2 separate regions of the Homo sapiens genome follow, and region 1 is linked to region 2. The links come from fine-mapping of genetic effects on gene expression. Tissue or cell type: whole blood. Region 2 holds a variant in brackets; the other region holds the start of a gene. All regions are shown on one strand. Distances are from middle to middle.

What was found. PIP is the estimated chance that this variant, and not a neighbour inherited with it, causes the effect.
Region 1: GABARAP starts here. The variant in region 2 is fine-mapped to the expression of GABARAP in whole blood (TOPMed, PIP 0.96).

Annotation. Positions count from the first base shown.
Region 1 is chr17:7,237,835-7,245,834 of GRCh38, forward strand. GABARAP (GABA type A receptor-associated protein) reads right to left here and starts at 4,615. Exons shown (of 4, transcript NM_007278.2): 1 at 4,407-4,615; 2 at 3,767-3,845; 3 at 3,508-3,626; 4 at 2,174-3,085. The coding sequence starts at 4,496. The coding sequence ends at 3,020. It overlaps PHF23 (PHD finger protein 23), which reads right to left and starts at 1,623. Exons shown (of 5, transcript NM_024297.3): 1 at 1,412-1,623. The coding sequence starts at 1,445. It overlaps CTDNEP1 (CTD nuclear envelope phosphatase 1), which reads right to left. Exons shown (of 8, transcript NM_001143775.2): 7 at 6,717-6,801; 8 at 5,757-6,411. The coding sequence ends at 6,351. RefSeq lists silencers at 1-370, 1,521-1,700, 1,751-1,890, 4,488-4,677, 5,268-5,377 and enhancers at 1,224-1,873, 2,001-2,090, 3,772-4,323, 4,324-4,875.
Region 2 is chr17:7,209,814-7,217,813 of GRCh38, forward strand. DLG4 (discs large MAGUK scaffold protein 4) reads right to left here and starts at 7,814. Exons shown (of 20, transcript NM_001321075.3): 1 at 7,305-7,814. The coding sequence starts at 7,334. It also overlaps a transcript of ACADVL not described here. RefSeq lists enhancers at 1,216-1,730, 1,731-2,245, 4,497-4,791, 5,166-6,144 and a silencer at 4,539-4,778. The variant G/C (reference allele first, on the strand shown) is at 3,134.

The DNA of each region.
Region 1 (8,000 bases), 28 kb after region 2:
CGGAGCCTGGGCGCGGCGCCCTCTGAGGCCTCGCTATAGCGCTCCCCTTCCCCCAACCGGAGGCCCGGCGCCCCGCCCCCCCAACTCACGGTCTCTCTCGACTCCAGTCTACTCGGATCCCTCAGCGCCCCACCCCACCGTACCGCTCCCGGGGCCGCGTCCGGGCCGCCGCCAGCCGCCCCCGTCCTTCACACGCGCCCGGAGCCCCGAGTTCCTACCCGGCCGCGCTCCACCGCCTCGGGCCCTCCGAGACCGCACACGCCGCCCGCCAGCCCCCAGGGTCCAGGATGACCACGCCGAACCGCTCCCCGCCCTCCGGCCCCTTCTACTCGAGCACGCGGCCCGGCGCGCCCCTCACCCCCACCCCAGACACACACAGGCACACGCATCCAACGCTACTTCACGGCCGGGACAGACCCGGGAGCTCTAACCCGGACGCGGCCCCCACCTGCCCCCCCCCCCCCGCCCATACCGCGCTCCCCACAATTTCGCCGTCCCTCCGCCCCCATCCGGGGCTTTGGCCCCTCCCCGTCTCCAGCTTTTCGGGCTCCCCACCGGGCCCCCCGGCCCTGTTCCTAGCCCTCTCCGGCCGCCGCCCCCCCCTCCGCCCCCGTACTCACCACCCAGTTACTAGGCTATGGACCCCTCAACTCTGGCCCCTTCCCCCCAACCAGCCACTCTCTCTCTCTCTCCACAGCAGCCACCGCTGCTGCCGCCGATGCCCCCCTCACCCTCAGCAACTCCCAGGCTCTTAACCCTCGCGGACCAACCCTACCCCCCCGCCCGACAAGTCGCCGGTCTTAACCCCCCCCACCCCGCCCCACCACCCCCTACAACTACCCAGCTCGCCTCGCTTCCTGGCTCGCTCTCTCCACAACTACCCCCCGGTACAGGTCCGTCTGCCGTAGACAATACCCAGACCCCCTCTTCTCCCCACAACTACCTGCCCACCTCTCCGACAATCACCGGGCATTCTCCGGCGGCAACTACTCGGAGCTCCGGTACCACCGCCACAAACTACCCCACCTCGGCGAACTACCGGGCCCCTCACTCAGCCTCTTCTACGTCCTCCCTCCTGAGCAACTCTCCGGCCACTGGATTCCCCTAACCTTCCAGTTCCAGGGCCCCAATCTGCCGGTGGCCCTTTCGGGCCCTAACCCCCGAGGCTCCGGGTTTCAAGCTCCTATCCCCCGCACCCCCACACCGTCTGATCTCCAACTACCCCAGCCCAGTTTCCCACTCCTCTTTCTCCAAGGTCTCTCAACTCGTCGCTCTCCCACCTCCAGGGCCAGCCTCCCGACCCCCTCCCCGAACTCCCCCGCTGGGCTCCGGGGCTCGACCTCCAAGTTTGCCAATTGATTCCTCGCCCGCCCCCCGCCGGCTCAGCGCTCTGCACCGGTCGAGAGCTCACCTTCGGGACTGGGCTCCGCCATGGCTTCCAGCATCGCCCCCTCCCCTCCTCCCGGTCCGGCGCCCCCCTCCCCGGAGCCGGGGATCCCGGTGCCGCCTCTAGTGCTCGATGCTCCCACTGCTTCGCTCCACAGAAGTGTCCGCCTCAGCCCGGTTGAGACTCGAGTCCGCTAGCCGCTGCCGCCACCTCCCTCTACCACTGCCTCCCGCACTCCCGGACCGGGCCCCCTCCCCCCGCGCCGCCGGCCGCCTGCTCCCTCCTCCTCCTCCTCCACCTCCTCTCTCCTCCCTCCCTCCTCTTCTCTCCCTCCTCCCCCCGCCGGCGCCGAGGCGCAGTGCACCAAGGGTTTTGTAGTCCGTCCGGGAACAGCGGAAAAGGGACCGCATGAACCTCCGGAACTTTGATTCCCAGAAAGCCACAGGCTGGCGCAGGCGCACCAAGCCGCTCCCCTCCCCCGGGGAGCGGCGGGGAGACCAGGAGCCGGAGGGGAGAGCGGAAGTGCGCGCGCAGGCCCCTGGGAGATGTAGGCTGGGCGGGACCAAGAAAGAAGAGGAAGAAGGGATTAGAACTCTCGGCCACCATACTGCCTCGTTCTGCAGCTTCTTTCTCCCCAGGAGGACCGCCCCACTTCCGGCCTGCCGGAGAAATGATTGCTGGGAGTTGAAGTATTCCTGGCGATAATGGCTCCCGCTCCCAGTCTTCTCCCTCCCTGATTCCACTCTGCCGGATCCCACACACCGGCAAAAGTCTAGCCAAGTGACATGCAACTGAGAACAGCCGTTTTACTAGCTTGCACACATGAAAATATCTTAGTTAGAATGTTCTAGCAAATGTGGATGTTCACCTAAAGCAGGTACTTCGGAACTTTCTCCACAGGAACCCACAGTAAAAAAAAATTTTTTTTTACATGAGCATTTTTAACATTTAGTTTCACATGCGTGTTATAAAACTAAAGTTTCAAGAAATAATCCTCAGTATTCCATTCCATCACAACAAAAGCACCCTCTTTTTGCAGACAGGGAAAAGCCCAACATGAACAGAATAAACCAAAATATACTTCTATCCCTCCAGCTTGTACCCAGTACTCTTCTTTCCCCACCACTGAAACCCACTGACACCTTGGAAAGACTTAAAATCAGCGGGACGAGGGGAGCAACACAAGGCAAAATTCAGTTCAGCTTGGTGGTTTCCTCTTTATTGATGTGCCTCCTACCTTCCCCCCACAATTTCAGTCCCTTCCAACTACCCCCAAAAAAGAAGGTAGTGAAAGGAAGGGATTGCTGGGGTTCTGAGCCCCTTGGGCAGTCAGAAAGGGAACAGAAACCAAAACAATCACTGGATGTGACACAGACTGACAATCAAGAAGTCTACAGCAGGATGGGAAAGGCGGGCAGAGAAAGGGGAAGAAAGGAGAAAGGAGAGTTACAAGATGCCAACTCCACCATTACCCCTCCTAAGAGAGGCTGGAGAGAAAGCCACAAACATTAAGAAGTGCCGGTCCTGAATAAGGGAGGTGGTGTTTGAGCTTGAAGGAGGAGGAGGTCAAGAAAGGGGGGCCACCTCTCTCTTTGTAGAATGAGACCCCCCTCCAGCTCAGGGGCAGCAGCTTCACAGACCGTAGACACTTTCGTCACTGTAGGCAATGTAGAGAAAGAAGTCTTCTTCATGGTGTTCCTGGGATGAAAGCAGAAAACTGTTCAGCAACTGGGCTCCAGTAACTTAAACCAACCACGACCCAGACACGTTCTTCTAGAACCACAAACCATTGCCTGACTCCTTCACTGACTCCAAGGCCTACCACACGAGCAGTATAATCTCTGCAGTCCTGGGCAAAAAGGCCTCAAACTGTTTTCTGCTGCTTTGGAATGGGGAGGGGGACTGGGAAGAGTCCCGAACAGATAGTTTCTCTAGCTCACTGTTCTCTTTCCTTCTCTCTACTCCTACTGTTCTGTCCAAACCCCCAACCCACGGCTATTATGAAACTTTAAGGCAAGCCAGGAAGCTAGTCCAAAACTACTGATGTAACAACACTTTCTTCCCCTCACGCTCTTCCAAGATTCCTCTCCAAAGCCTCCACCACTTCCCAGTCACCATACCTGGTACAGCTGACCCATTGTGGCACTGGTGGGTGGAATGACATTGTTGACAAAGAAAAACAAGGCATCCTCAGCTCGGAGATGAATTCGCTTCCGGATCAAGAAGTAGAACTGACCAACTGCAAAAGATACAAGATGCAAGAAAGTCACAGAGGTCAAAAATGCCCTCAAAAGAACAGCTGCTAGGTGGAGCCTCCTCCCGCAGAGACTGCACTCCCACCCACAGGAAGCAAGCCTGAGTCTTGGATCAGGTTCCCACCTGTGAGATCAGAAGGCACCAGGTATTTCTTTTTGTCCAGGTCTCCTATCCGAGCTTTGGGAGCCTTTTCTACTATCACCTGATAAAGAGATGAAAATTAGGAGACAGAAGGAATGCAGCCCCGAAGCTGCACCTGTCAAGAACTCAAGAAACAATATTCCTAGCACCTAAATCTACCCCAGATTCATCTCTTTGTCTTTGTACACGCGGTGCAGCACTGAGTCCCAGAGATCCTGACCTCACTGACTGGAGCTCATTTAAATATCCAGGATCCATCCCCCAATAGGGCGTCACCATAAACAACTATCTTAATCAGACGGAGGTGACTTGTTTGGGTCGACTAGTGATTCAATCTCGCAACCTTAGCTAGCTGGGGGGATGACCATTTGAAGCTCAGGCTGTCAAACTCTCTAAGGCCTCAAATGCTAAGGTTTCTCTCTCCTGTCCACATCCCTCTCAACCCCACATCCACCACTACCCCACTCCTTTCATCCTGGGTCCCAAGGACAGCAGTTTCAGGCTCGCTGCCAACCCCACCACAGCCAGCAGCCTGATCCCTGCGCTGCCTGTCCCGATCCAAGGCCAGGCTGTGGCGTCAGCGTAAGCGTCCCGCGCCCTCGGCCCTGGCTACTGTCCTCACCGGCACCCGGTCCGGGTATTTCTTTCGGATCTTCTCGCCCTCAGAGCGGCGCTTCTCGAACGGATGCTCTTCTTTGTACACGAACTTCATCCTCCCGGGAACCGGGCTGGACAGGGCTGGGCTGAGGGAACCCAGGGGGGCCGGGACGGGGGGCGGCGACGACGGCGGCGACGCGCGGGCGGATTCAGCGGAGCGATCCACGAATTTGCGCCACTTCCCTATTCACCAACCCCGCCCCCGACTATCGGGGACTGCCCCCCCCGCTAAGATACGCCACTACCTCAGCGGCGCTAACGCTGCTAGCGTAGCACCACCAACTGACCGGCCCCCTCACGCCATTAGCGTAATCGCTTTGGAATCAATTTGTGGGCTACGCAGGCGACGTAGCAAAGACGGTTGGCTTTTGCTCATCGAAAATTACTCTAAACCTATTCCCCAACCGTCCCCTCAAGGAAGCTGGGGCTGAAGAGGAGTAAAAGATGGTAATCATCATACGAGACTTGGTTCTCCAAGTTCCTTTCGTTAACAACGTAGAGGAACAGCAGGGACAATTACAAGGTTAGCTATTCACGAACCGTGTTGCTACGCTGAAGGCGGCCGTTGACACCAAAACAAAGTAGTACCCAAGTGGCGGAGATGATCTCCAGAAATAAGAAGTCAAAAAGAAAACAGATGTTTGGAGAGATCTACAGAACGCTTAAGTGCCAAAATGAGTAGACCAATAGGGACTGGAGAGGAGGTTGGAAAGGTAGGGACTACGCCAGCGCGGAGGAACACTGCGGGACTTGAGTTAAATCATGTGATCTCAAAGAGGGCGGAGCGTCACGTGGCGGGTGCGCGAAGTAGGGCCGGCTTGGGAGGGCGCCGGGGAGGCGGGGCCGGCTGGGCGACAGCTGGGAGGGGGACCGACGCCTTCCCGGACAGCGGAGGTCGGGGCGCCAGCCACCTGGGGGCAGCGCCCGCTTAACCTGTCCACGTCAGTGCCCCGGACGAAGCCCGGTTTCTCCAGCTCTACGCCCTTTGGCCGTCCAGGTTTCTCCTTTCGTGCTTCCATAGCCGGTTTCTCCTTTCGTGCTTCCATAGCCTGCTTCTCCGAAGGTGTCCTTCCACTCCCCACCAGCGCGCCCATCCTGTCACTCGGCCCTTCCCGCCAAAGCATCTGGTGTCAGCATTATTGTATCCCAGGCATCTGGTGTCCGCATTATTCTATCCCTATACTCAACGCCACCTTTCCCCCTGCCCCTTGAGTCCAACAGCAGTCTCTTCCCCCTCTGCCTGTGGGACAGGGTGCATGTGAACAAAGTCCCCTCTCTTCACTTCCCAAAACCCCAGAGAAGGACCTAAGGCCGCTTTGGTTTCAAAGTTATAATGCATGGTTTAAAAGAGAGAAAAGGAAAAAAGACACAAAGCTGGTTACAGGTCTGAGGGAGTCTAAGGAGAGAAAAATAGAGGGAGAGTAAAGGGGGGACAAATTTAGGGAAAATCCAGTGGCCCAAAATCCCAGTATCCCACCCACAGCCCAGCCCTTGGAGCAGGAGTGAAGAATTAGATCAGTTTTGTACAAGAGTTTTTTAAAAAAAATCAAATCACAACAAAGCTGACTTGGCTTCTCTTTGAGCCTCCTGGATCACCGTATGTCTGTCACTCTGGCCAGTCCTGCCTCTTCACAAACACTGATTCGGCTCTCCTAGGCTTCCGCCTGTGTCCCAGTCTGGGGTTTCCATGGAGTGTGAACACGAAGTTAAGAGTGAGGCTGCTTCAGAGCCCCTGGCCCATGTGTCCATCCAGACTCCAAGTGGAGTGTAGGGCTCCCAGGGCAGAGAGGGGTGGGAGGGGCAGACCCTGCCCAGGCAGTCCTCACATTGGACAGGGCATCAGACGGCATCCCAAGGGCTCGCCCTCCCTTTCCCCCCCACCCCAACTCAGGTGGAGGGGGAGCAGCTGTCACCAGAGCCGATGTTGGTGAAGGTTTCGGCTCAGCACGGAACGAACATCAGCGGTGAACCTGGGGTGACAATAACTTGCATTGGTAGAGTACCTTATAGTTCATACCCTCACAACACTCTTGTAAGGCAGCATCACTGGAGATGTGGGACCTAAATTATCACCATATTCATGATTAGATAGGTTCAATTTGCCCACAGCCTACTAGCTAAAGTGATGAGCTTTGAAGTAAGACGACCTGGGTCCAAATGTTAAATTCTTAAGGGAACAGAGTTAAAACAGGACAAACCTTTTTTATTCCCTCTGAGGATCCCCCACCTCCTCCTTTCTTGAGATATCCAAGTGTCCAGAGCCCACTTCCCTTACCTGAGGGCATCCAGCATTGGGAGCAGGTTGAGAAGGGCTGTGTCGCTGGGGTCACTGAACCAGGATTTGATGGGGATGGCATTGTCTAGGGTGGGTGAAAATGCAGATGAGAAGAAACAGAATTCAAGAGAGACGGTGTTTTTCTCTTCTTGGAGGGAAGGAGGAATTATTGTTAAAAATATATGCCTCCCACTACCGGAAGTCAACAACCTAAGTAAAACTTTCCTGGTTTATGCTCCGAAACTAAGTTTTAATCACCAGATCTCATACCTATTGATGCTTCTAGTCAAGCTTACTGCCATTGTGCCTCACTTGAAACACACTTGGCCAGGCGCAGTGGCTCACACCTGTTATCCCAACACTTTGAGAGGCCGAGGTGGGAGGATCACTTGAGCTCAGGAGTTTGAGTCCAGCCTGGGCAACATAATGAGATCCCTTCTCTACTAAAAATCAAAAAATTGGCCAAGGGCAGTGGCTTACGCCTGTAATCCCAGCACTTTGGGAGGCCAAAGCGGACGAATCACGAGGTCAGGAATTCAAGACCAGCCTGGCCAACGTGGTGAAACTCCGTCGCTACTAAAAATACAAAAAATTAGCTGCGCGTGGTGGCAGGTGCCTGTGATCCCAGCTACTTGGGAGGCTGAGGCAGGAGAATTGCTTGAACCTGGAAGTCGGAGGTTGCAGTAAGCCGAGATCACGCCACTGCATTCCAGCCTGGGTGACAGTGCGAGACTCTGTCTCAAAAAAAAATAAAAAATAAAAAAATTAGCTGGGCATGGTGGTGCACGCCTGTAGTCCCAACTACTGAGAGGCTGAGGCAGAAGGATCACTTGAGCCTGGGAGATCGAGGCTGCAGTGAGCTATGATCATGACACTGCACTCCAGCCTGGGAACAGAGTGAGACCCTATCTCAAAAAATAAATAAAAATAAATTTTATTTTTATTTATTTATTATTTATTTTTTTTGAGACGGCGTCTCGCTCTGTCACCCAGGCTGGAGTGCAATGGTGCAATCTCGGCTCACTGCAACCTCCGCCTCCCGGGTTCAAGCGATTCTCCTGCCTCAGCCTCCCGAGTTGCTGGGATTACAGGCGTGCGCCACCACGCCTGGCTAGTTTTTTCTATTTTTAGTAGAGATGGGGTTTCACCATGTTTGTTAGGCTGGTCTCGAACTTCTGACCTCGTGATCCGCCTGCCTCGGCCTCCCAAAGTGCTGGGATTACAAGCATAATCCACCGTGCCCAGCCAAAAATAAATTTTAAAAATGAAAAAAATGATATAAGA
Region 2 (8,000 bases):
CGAGGTGGGTACATCACCTGAGGTCAGAGACCAGCCTGGCCAACATGGTGAAATCCCATCTCTACTAAAAATACAAAAATTAGCTGGGCGTGGTGGCACATGGCTGTAATCCTAGCTACATGGGAGGCTGAGGCAGGAGAATTGCTTGAACCTGGGAAGCGGAGGTTGCAGTGAGCCGAGATCATGCCACTGCACTCTAGCCTGGCGACAGAGTGAGACTCCATCTCCAAAACAAAAAAGAGAGAGGGCGAGCAGAATTTCCCTCCCAAAAGTTTCTGAGAGGCTGAGAGTGCCCTAATACTTAGAGGGCAGCAGCTGCGAGATCAAATGGGAGGAAGCTTATCAAGGTCAATGGCCAATCCTTGAGTAGGATTCTGAAAATGTTAAAGATGATGAATCAAGGCTGAGAATATAACACAACTTTGGCTGTAGAGTAAGGGTACAGTAAGAGAATGGGAGAAGGGAAGTGGTCCTGTCAGCACGAAAACTCTCAAACCCAGAACACAGAGACAACTCAAATCAAGAAGCACCCTGATACATTTAAAGAGTCTTAAAGAAGGAAAACGGGCTCAGCAAGATTGAGTCTATTCTCTGGGCCACAGACTTGGAGAGAATCCTGAACTCCAGATTTCAATCCGATGGGCACAAAAAGTAGAGAAGGAAAATAGGAGAACACACAAAATAGCCCTCCTCCAAGGCTGAGCTGTCTTGAATAAAGGAGTTCTATGAACCAACAGAGACTGTTCATTCCACATCCTGAGAAGGTGGTCTTCTACCTGGGCAGTGCACAAGCTGAGGGGCAAGCCCCAGAATTGAGACCTGGGGGAAGGGGTGGAAGCCGCTCTCCGCTATCCACTCTTCCTTCACAAGGCCTCCAATTCCCTGCAAGGTAAATTAGGACCAAAGCTCCAAGTTTTGGAGTCTGGGGGAGGGTTTGAGTCCAGTGCCTCTCCATCTTCACTCCACCTCAGAGAGAAAATTCCTGAATCTGAGGAGGAAATGTCAGCGTGCACCCAAAGAAAATGGAAACATGAGGAGGGCCATTTCATCATTTATTCTAGGGAGGAAATGAAGGTAAACTTTTATCTCAGCGAGCCCCCAATACCTCTCCCTGCCCCACCCCCATGGAGGGAGGGTGGTGTCTGGCACTGAAGAAAAGGCTCCTCAGGATTGGGAGGCAACATGGAGAAAATGGGGAACAAGAAATGGGTGCCAGGGTTTCCAGAATGTGGCTGGAAGAGGTTAGGGACTAGGTTCAGTCTCTGGAAATTTTCGACGTACATGTAGGGGGGCGGGGAGAAACGTCGGGAGGGGTGGGGGTGGGGGCGGGGGAGAGTAATTCTGAAACTGCAGACTGGGGGGCTGGGGCGGTGGGGGATCAGCACCTCTCAGTCTTGGATTACAGGGCAACTAAAGCAGGACGGGAAAGGAGGACCCCCCCCATCCTTTATCCTACTGGGACTCAGGGCCCTAACCCAGACAACTCAGATGCTACTGGGACATATCTGCACCCCCAATATATTAGGGCTTAAAACAAGTAAAAGGCCTGGGGAATGGGGGACACGGACGGAGTCGCTGTTGTTCCTTCCCCTTTGGCCCCCTCCTCACCAGAGCCCCAGTTGCACAGAATGACCTGGAACTGAGGCTTGCACCCCCAAAACATAGGGGTGTGAGTCAAAGTGAATGATAAGAGGGGCGACCCACGGCGCCTGTCCACGAGAAGTTGCAACCCAGAGACCCCGCACCAAGCAGAAGGAAGAGCGACAGCGCTTGAAGCTTGCACCCTGATATTTGCGGGGGTCCGGGAAGGGGGAGCGGGCCGGAGCCCATACCGCGGCACGTACCACGCAGAGACACATGGAGGCGAATCTGTTCCGAGCCGACATGGAGAAGGGGAGGGGGACTGAGGGAAGGGGGTAGGTGGGATATCAAGGGTCCCGGGGGTTGGGGGAGGGGGAGGGGCAGAGGGGCGGGGGCTGCGGCGGCCGCGGCAACTGGAGGCTGCGGCGGGGGGGGGGGGGGGGTGACGGCGCCTGCGCAGTAAGGAAGAGCGTCACGTTGGGAGAGAGGGGTGAGGGGAGACCCTCTTAGCCACCAACTTCCCTGGTTCACGCTGTTTCTCTGTGAACTTCACTTTCCACAGTATACTTCTATTCCGACCCCTCTACAATTAAAGACAGACTTAAATTTACCAGTTTATCTCTCTAGTTCTCAGGGACCCCTTATTCCATCCCATCTAATCCCCCAACCCCAACATCGCGAGACCCCAAACCATTCCAAAACCTCACTGGACATCTCGTCACTACTGGCCTCCCAGAGTCCAGGGAAACAAACAGCACTTCTCTCACAAGAACCCCCAAGGGATCTACACTGCCTCTCCCACCAAACCCCCGCAAGATTGGTGCTGTGGATAGCATCTCCTCAGATTCCAAGGCATCTCCTACTCTAACCAGCATAGTTCTCCCCTGCAGTCCAGCCCCACCTGATAGGCAGCCCATGTTTCTTCAAGAGTTTAAGGAACCACAGAGCCTTGTTGGCCCCCCAAATTAATATATGCTAAATCATCCCTTTCTATATCACATCTATCTCCCAATCCACTAACAGGGATGTTGCAATTAGTGCAAATATTACTCTTGCTCTAATATAAACATCCAAATAACAAGTCCTCTAATTTGTTGGGGATCCCCTGTCCAAACCCCCGAATCTAATAAGATACTCATGACTTCCTAATATGCCAGTCTCCAAATCCACACCAGAACCCAATTTCAGGAAATATTTAATCTACTTTAAAGCAGACCCTCCAAATTAAATAGCAATCTCGTCAATTTTTTCCAAAACTCTTATAAAAAGAAATGTAGACGGGAAGATCGCTGGAGGCCAGGTGCCCAACACCAGCTTGGGCAACATAGTGAGATCCCATCTCTAAAAAAAAAAATTTTGGCCTGGCACGGTGGCTCACACCTGTAATCCCAGCACTTTGGGAGGCCGAGGCGGTTGGATCATGAGGTCAGGCGTTCCAGACCAGCCTGGCCAAGATGGTGAAACCCCATCTCTACTAAAACTACAAAAATTAGCCGGGCGCGGTGGCAGGCGCCTGTAATCCTAGCTACTAGGGAGGCTGAGGCAGGAGGAT[G/C]GCTTGAATCTGGGCAGCAGAGATTGCAGTGAGCCGAGATCGTGCCACTGCACTCTAGCCTAGGCGACAGAGTGAGACTCGGTCTCAAAAATTAATAATTAATTAATTAAAAGTATTTTCCTTTTCCTTTTCTTTTCTTTCTTTCTTTCTTTTTTTTTTTTTTTTTTTTGAGACAGATTCTCGCTCTGTTGCTCATGCTGGAGTGCAATGGCGCGATCTCGGCTTACTGCAACATCCGGCTCCCGGGTTCGAGTGATTCTCCTACCTCAACCTCCCGGATATCTGGCATTACAGGCGCCCGCCACTACGCCCGGCTAATTTTTTTGTATTTTTAGTAGAGACGGGGTATCGCCATGTTGGCCAGGCTGGTCTCGAACTCGTGACCTCACATGATCCGCGCGCCTCGGGCTCCCAAAGTGCTGGGATTACAGGTGTGAGCCACCGCACCCGGCACCTCCTCTCCTTTTCTTTACCCCTGAGGTTCATAGATTACACCCTTTTCTGTCTGCCCAGAACATCCCCTCCACGATTCTGAATTCCAACTTTGTCGGAAGATTGCTCCCAAATATATCTTCTCCACACTCAGGCCTCAAAAAATACACACCAAAGATACGGCCGGCAATCTGCAATGACCCACAAATCGTCCAGAACACTCCCAACCGCCTCCTTCAGGTCTCTTCAGAGATTTCCATTTTCTCCCAAACAACTTAACCTGAAAGCCTCTCTTCCAAATATTCTCCCATTGAACGCCCACCCTTCCAGCTCTTAAAACCCAGTGAGGGGTCTCCTCAAATCGGCTGACTTCTATAAAATGCCCATACATGGTAGAAATGACGACTTCCCTAGAATCTCACCCAAGCGAGATTGACCCCGTTGATCGGCATCTGTTACATGCGCCCCCAAGATGACCCCCAATGTCCTAGTTTCATATCTGGTAGGAAGGCTTGGATCACCAGAGGATCCAAGGAGTCAGTGCGGAAGGGGCTGGACTCAAATTTCCTTCTAGAATAGAAAACCTGCAGGCCCTGCTTATCCACCAGTGGGCGCCATGGCCCATAAAGACCCTTCCCCATCCCCCATTTCCCTTTTCCCTCCATTTTCCGTTTCTCTGTTGCCTGGCAACGCAGCAATCAAGGACTTTGCCGTCGCCTAGCAACCGTCTCCTGGGAACACAGAGCTGAGGTAGGAGGGGTGCTCTGATGAAATCTGAACAGACCTCCATCTTAGGAAAATTGAGACGTCAGACTTCCCAACCCCCGGATTCTCCTTTCCAAAGACCCCCGCGCCCTGAAGTTACTTGGACAATAGCTCCTCAAACCCTGTCTCCTTTACGCACGGGGGGCCACGCCACGCCCATCCCAGGTCAGCCCCGCCCTCATTTCGGTCAGGTAACCCAGCCCCAAGGTTCCTCCCCTTTCCGAAGGTTGCTGCCTCCCTCGATAGAGTAAGCCAGACCCCACCCACCTGCCCGGGAGGCCACGCCTCCGTCCACTTCCCGCCCGTTCGCTCCCCCTGCCTCGCCCACACTGTCCCTCCGCCACGCCCCTGACGGCCAATGAATGAGGCCGTCGGCCACACTGCCCCGCCCCCGGCATCTCGGCTTTGCCCAATAAGGACCACCCGGAGGGTTTAACCGCTTCGCTCCTGGGGCTCTGGCAAATAGCCTCAGTCTTTCCCCCACTGTATCCCCACCCCCACTTGTTCTGCTCCGCCTTCCGCCACCCTCGCCCGGCCCTCCAGTCCGCCACGCAGCTTCAGTCGTCGCCGGTTACCATGGCAACGGCGGCAGCAGCGCGGGGAAAGGGGGAGGGACGGGGGCGGAGTGGGAGAAAGAGATGCTCAGAGACGAGAGATTCTGGCAGAGATAAAGGCACCAAGAAAGACAAAGTGATCGCTGTAGAGTGGAGTTTGCACACAACACAGGGCCTAGCACGCAGTAGGCTTTCAATAAATGTTCCTTAAATTACTGCGGCAGGAGTCTAAATATAGGCAATGAAAGATGGAAGACTCAGGCAGAGCTGGGGAGCTCAACGACCGCAAAGCCTGAGCACTCCCTACCCCATCCAGCATTTGGGGAAGCAGGAGCCATGTGCCCCCTGCAGGCTCCTCTTGGGCTACCCTCCGCTGGCTGCCCTGGATAGAGATGAACCACAACTCCCAACAGCGCCATGGGCAGCAACCCTCTAACATTGAGGGATCTGGTGCCTCGGGGCCTTATGGGAGTTGGAGTCCCCACCATACCGAGGCTGACAAGTTTTCCAGCCAAGGAATGTGGCAAGCCTGGGTCTCCACGCCTCTGTAAACCCCAAATGCATGATCTGCTCTGTAAGCCTCCTTCCTTCAGGGATGCTCAACCCTGGGCTCCATGGAAGAAGTAGGAGTCTGGAGTGGGTAATGAATAAGGCCACCCACCCACCCAGAATAGCTGCCTGCTGGCAAGCCCCTCACCCTCGCTCCCATTTGTGTGTTCACGTGTTGGAAGCAGAGCCCACACATTCCAGCGGGCTTTCTATTTACACCTGGAATGCAGGGGACCACAGCCATGGAGCCTAAGGCCAAGTGACAGGCCTAAGGGCAGGAGACAGCGGGAGCAGAGGAAACCAGGCCAGAGAAACTGAGGCATAAAAATCCACCGAAACTACAGGGGATGTGGGGAAGAGGCAGCCTGGGAGAAAGCCCGAAACCCACAGAATGAAGGACAAGAAAGTCGCCCTGGTGGAGAGAGGGTGGGGGCTCCAGATCTAAAGGTCCTCAGCCCCCAATCTCTTCCAACCATCCTCACACGTGCACAATGCATGTGTACACACATGTGTGAGTTTGTGGCAGGGAACATGTGTGTCCTCAGCTCCCTCCCATGAAAAGCTGCAGTTCCCACTAAATATAACCCCCTCCCCAGCCTGTGACTCACCCGGACCCCGCCTCCCCCGGCCCCCACTTCCTGTCCCACCCCCCAGCCCCCAGCTGCCTGCCACCCGCCCAAGCCTCCCTCCACACACCAGGCATCCAGCTCTCCAGTCCCAGAGTCTCCAAGGAGAGCCTAGGTATCTGCATCCCACCAGGAGCTCGCCTGTGCTCCATCCGAGATCTCCTGCCTTTGCCAGGCTCCAACCAGAGGGACACTCTTGCACAGATCCCCATCGCTGCCAGCCCTGCCCTCCTCCTACACCTTTTCACCCCAGTAACCTCAGTAACTTCGGTCATAAGCCCTCAGGGACCCTTAAATCCAGGTGTCCTCCCCCACCTTGATCCCAAGCGTCAGGGGTATCTGGAACAGTCCCCACATCTGCTCTTCTCCCTCTCTCTTGATCAGGGCTAGATACAGTGTGGGAGGAGATGGGGATATTGGGCACCTGCCTTTGGGCCACCCCCAAATTGTGCACCACCCACCCGGTCCCCCTCCTCAAATCCCCTCTCTCCCTAAGCCTCTCATCCTCCTCCTCAGGGGCTGGCAAGCTCGGCTGCTGCAATCTTCTGCCTCCTATGGGAGTACCCCCAAATCCTTGCCTCACCTGGTCCATTCCCTCAGGTGATCCCATGCCAGGGCCCCAGCCCTCTGACAACTTCCAACTACCTCCATTCTATATGACTGAACCCTAAATTAACAGTTCCCTCAAATTGAGAGAGCATCCCTAAATGCAGCCACCACGAGATGCTTGTTCTAGAGTCTGAAGGCCCACCCCTTCCCTGCCAGCTGACACCCCCAGATCAGTCAGGCACTCACAACCAATAACCTTTACCCCATGCCAGGAGCCCCCCAAAACTGGACAAGGCCCTTGGAAGCCAGCTTTTCCCTGGGGAGGAAAGAGGAACCCCCCAACATAGCCCACCTTCCCACATACACCAGCAGGACTCCCTTATGAGCCAGGCTTCTCCTTAAATAAGTCTCCCTCAAACAGCGCTGATGAACCCCCAAACCCGCCAGGCCCCCCGAACCATGGAATATCCTAAATTTTCCATATCCCTACAGGTACAAAGGGATCACTCCAGGGGGCACCTGTGGCCAAATCCTGCATTTTCTCAGATGTGAACCCCAAAACTAAATTAAGACCCCCAAATACATCTTACTTCTGATGCTGCCACTCCAGGGGCGCCAGTCCCAGATAAGGCCTACTAACCCCTCCCCACAAACTCATACCCTCCCCCCAGTTTATAGCCCCCCCATCATGCTTACCTTGGTTGTCACTATACAGAGACAGTCCATGTTGGGGGGCCTGGCCGCGGCGGCGGGTAAGGGGCTCTGACTTCATCGGAGTTTCGTTCCTCCCCTCCGTGGGTTCTCACCCCTCCCCCCTCCGCACCCCACTTTTGCAGGGGGGGCCAGGATGGGGGGAGGGGTGAGAGGGGAAGGAGGGGGTTGGAGAAGGGAAGGGGAGGGGAGCGTGGGAGGGAGGGGAAGGGGGCCCTAAAAGGGGCTCCCCAGTGGAGGGGAGGGGGCTTGGGGAGCACACCCCGATTCTCAGGAGGGGCGGGGGCACCGGGGGCTGGCAGCCCCGGAGTTCGGGGGCTGGGGCATGAGCTGGGGTGGGGGAGGGGAACTGGATTTCGGGGAGCCCCGGGGTAGGGGGGGGTCTTGCCAAACGGCCAGGGGCTAGGGGCCGTGGCGGGGGAGTGGGGTGGGGGGGTTGGAAACGGCAGCGGCCGAGGGAGCCGTGGAGCCGAAGAGGGAAGGGGAGAGAGGAGGAGAGAGGAAGCAGGGGGAGGGAGGGAGGGAGCTAGGAGCCAGAATGGGGGGGGTGCCTTGGCAGAGTTAACTCCTTCTGTGCTGGCAGGAACCCGGATAATGGGAAAGGAGATAGAAGCAGAAGCACAGAGGCCCCTGAGGCAAACATGGAGACCTGGCCAGCCACCAGCGATGACAGCAAAGACG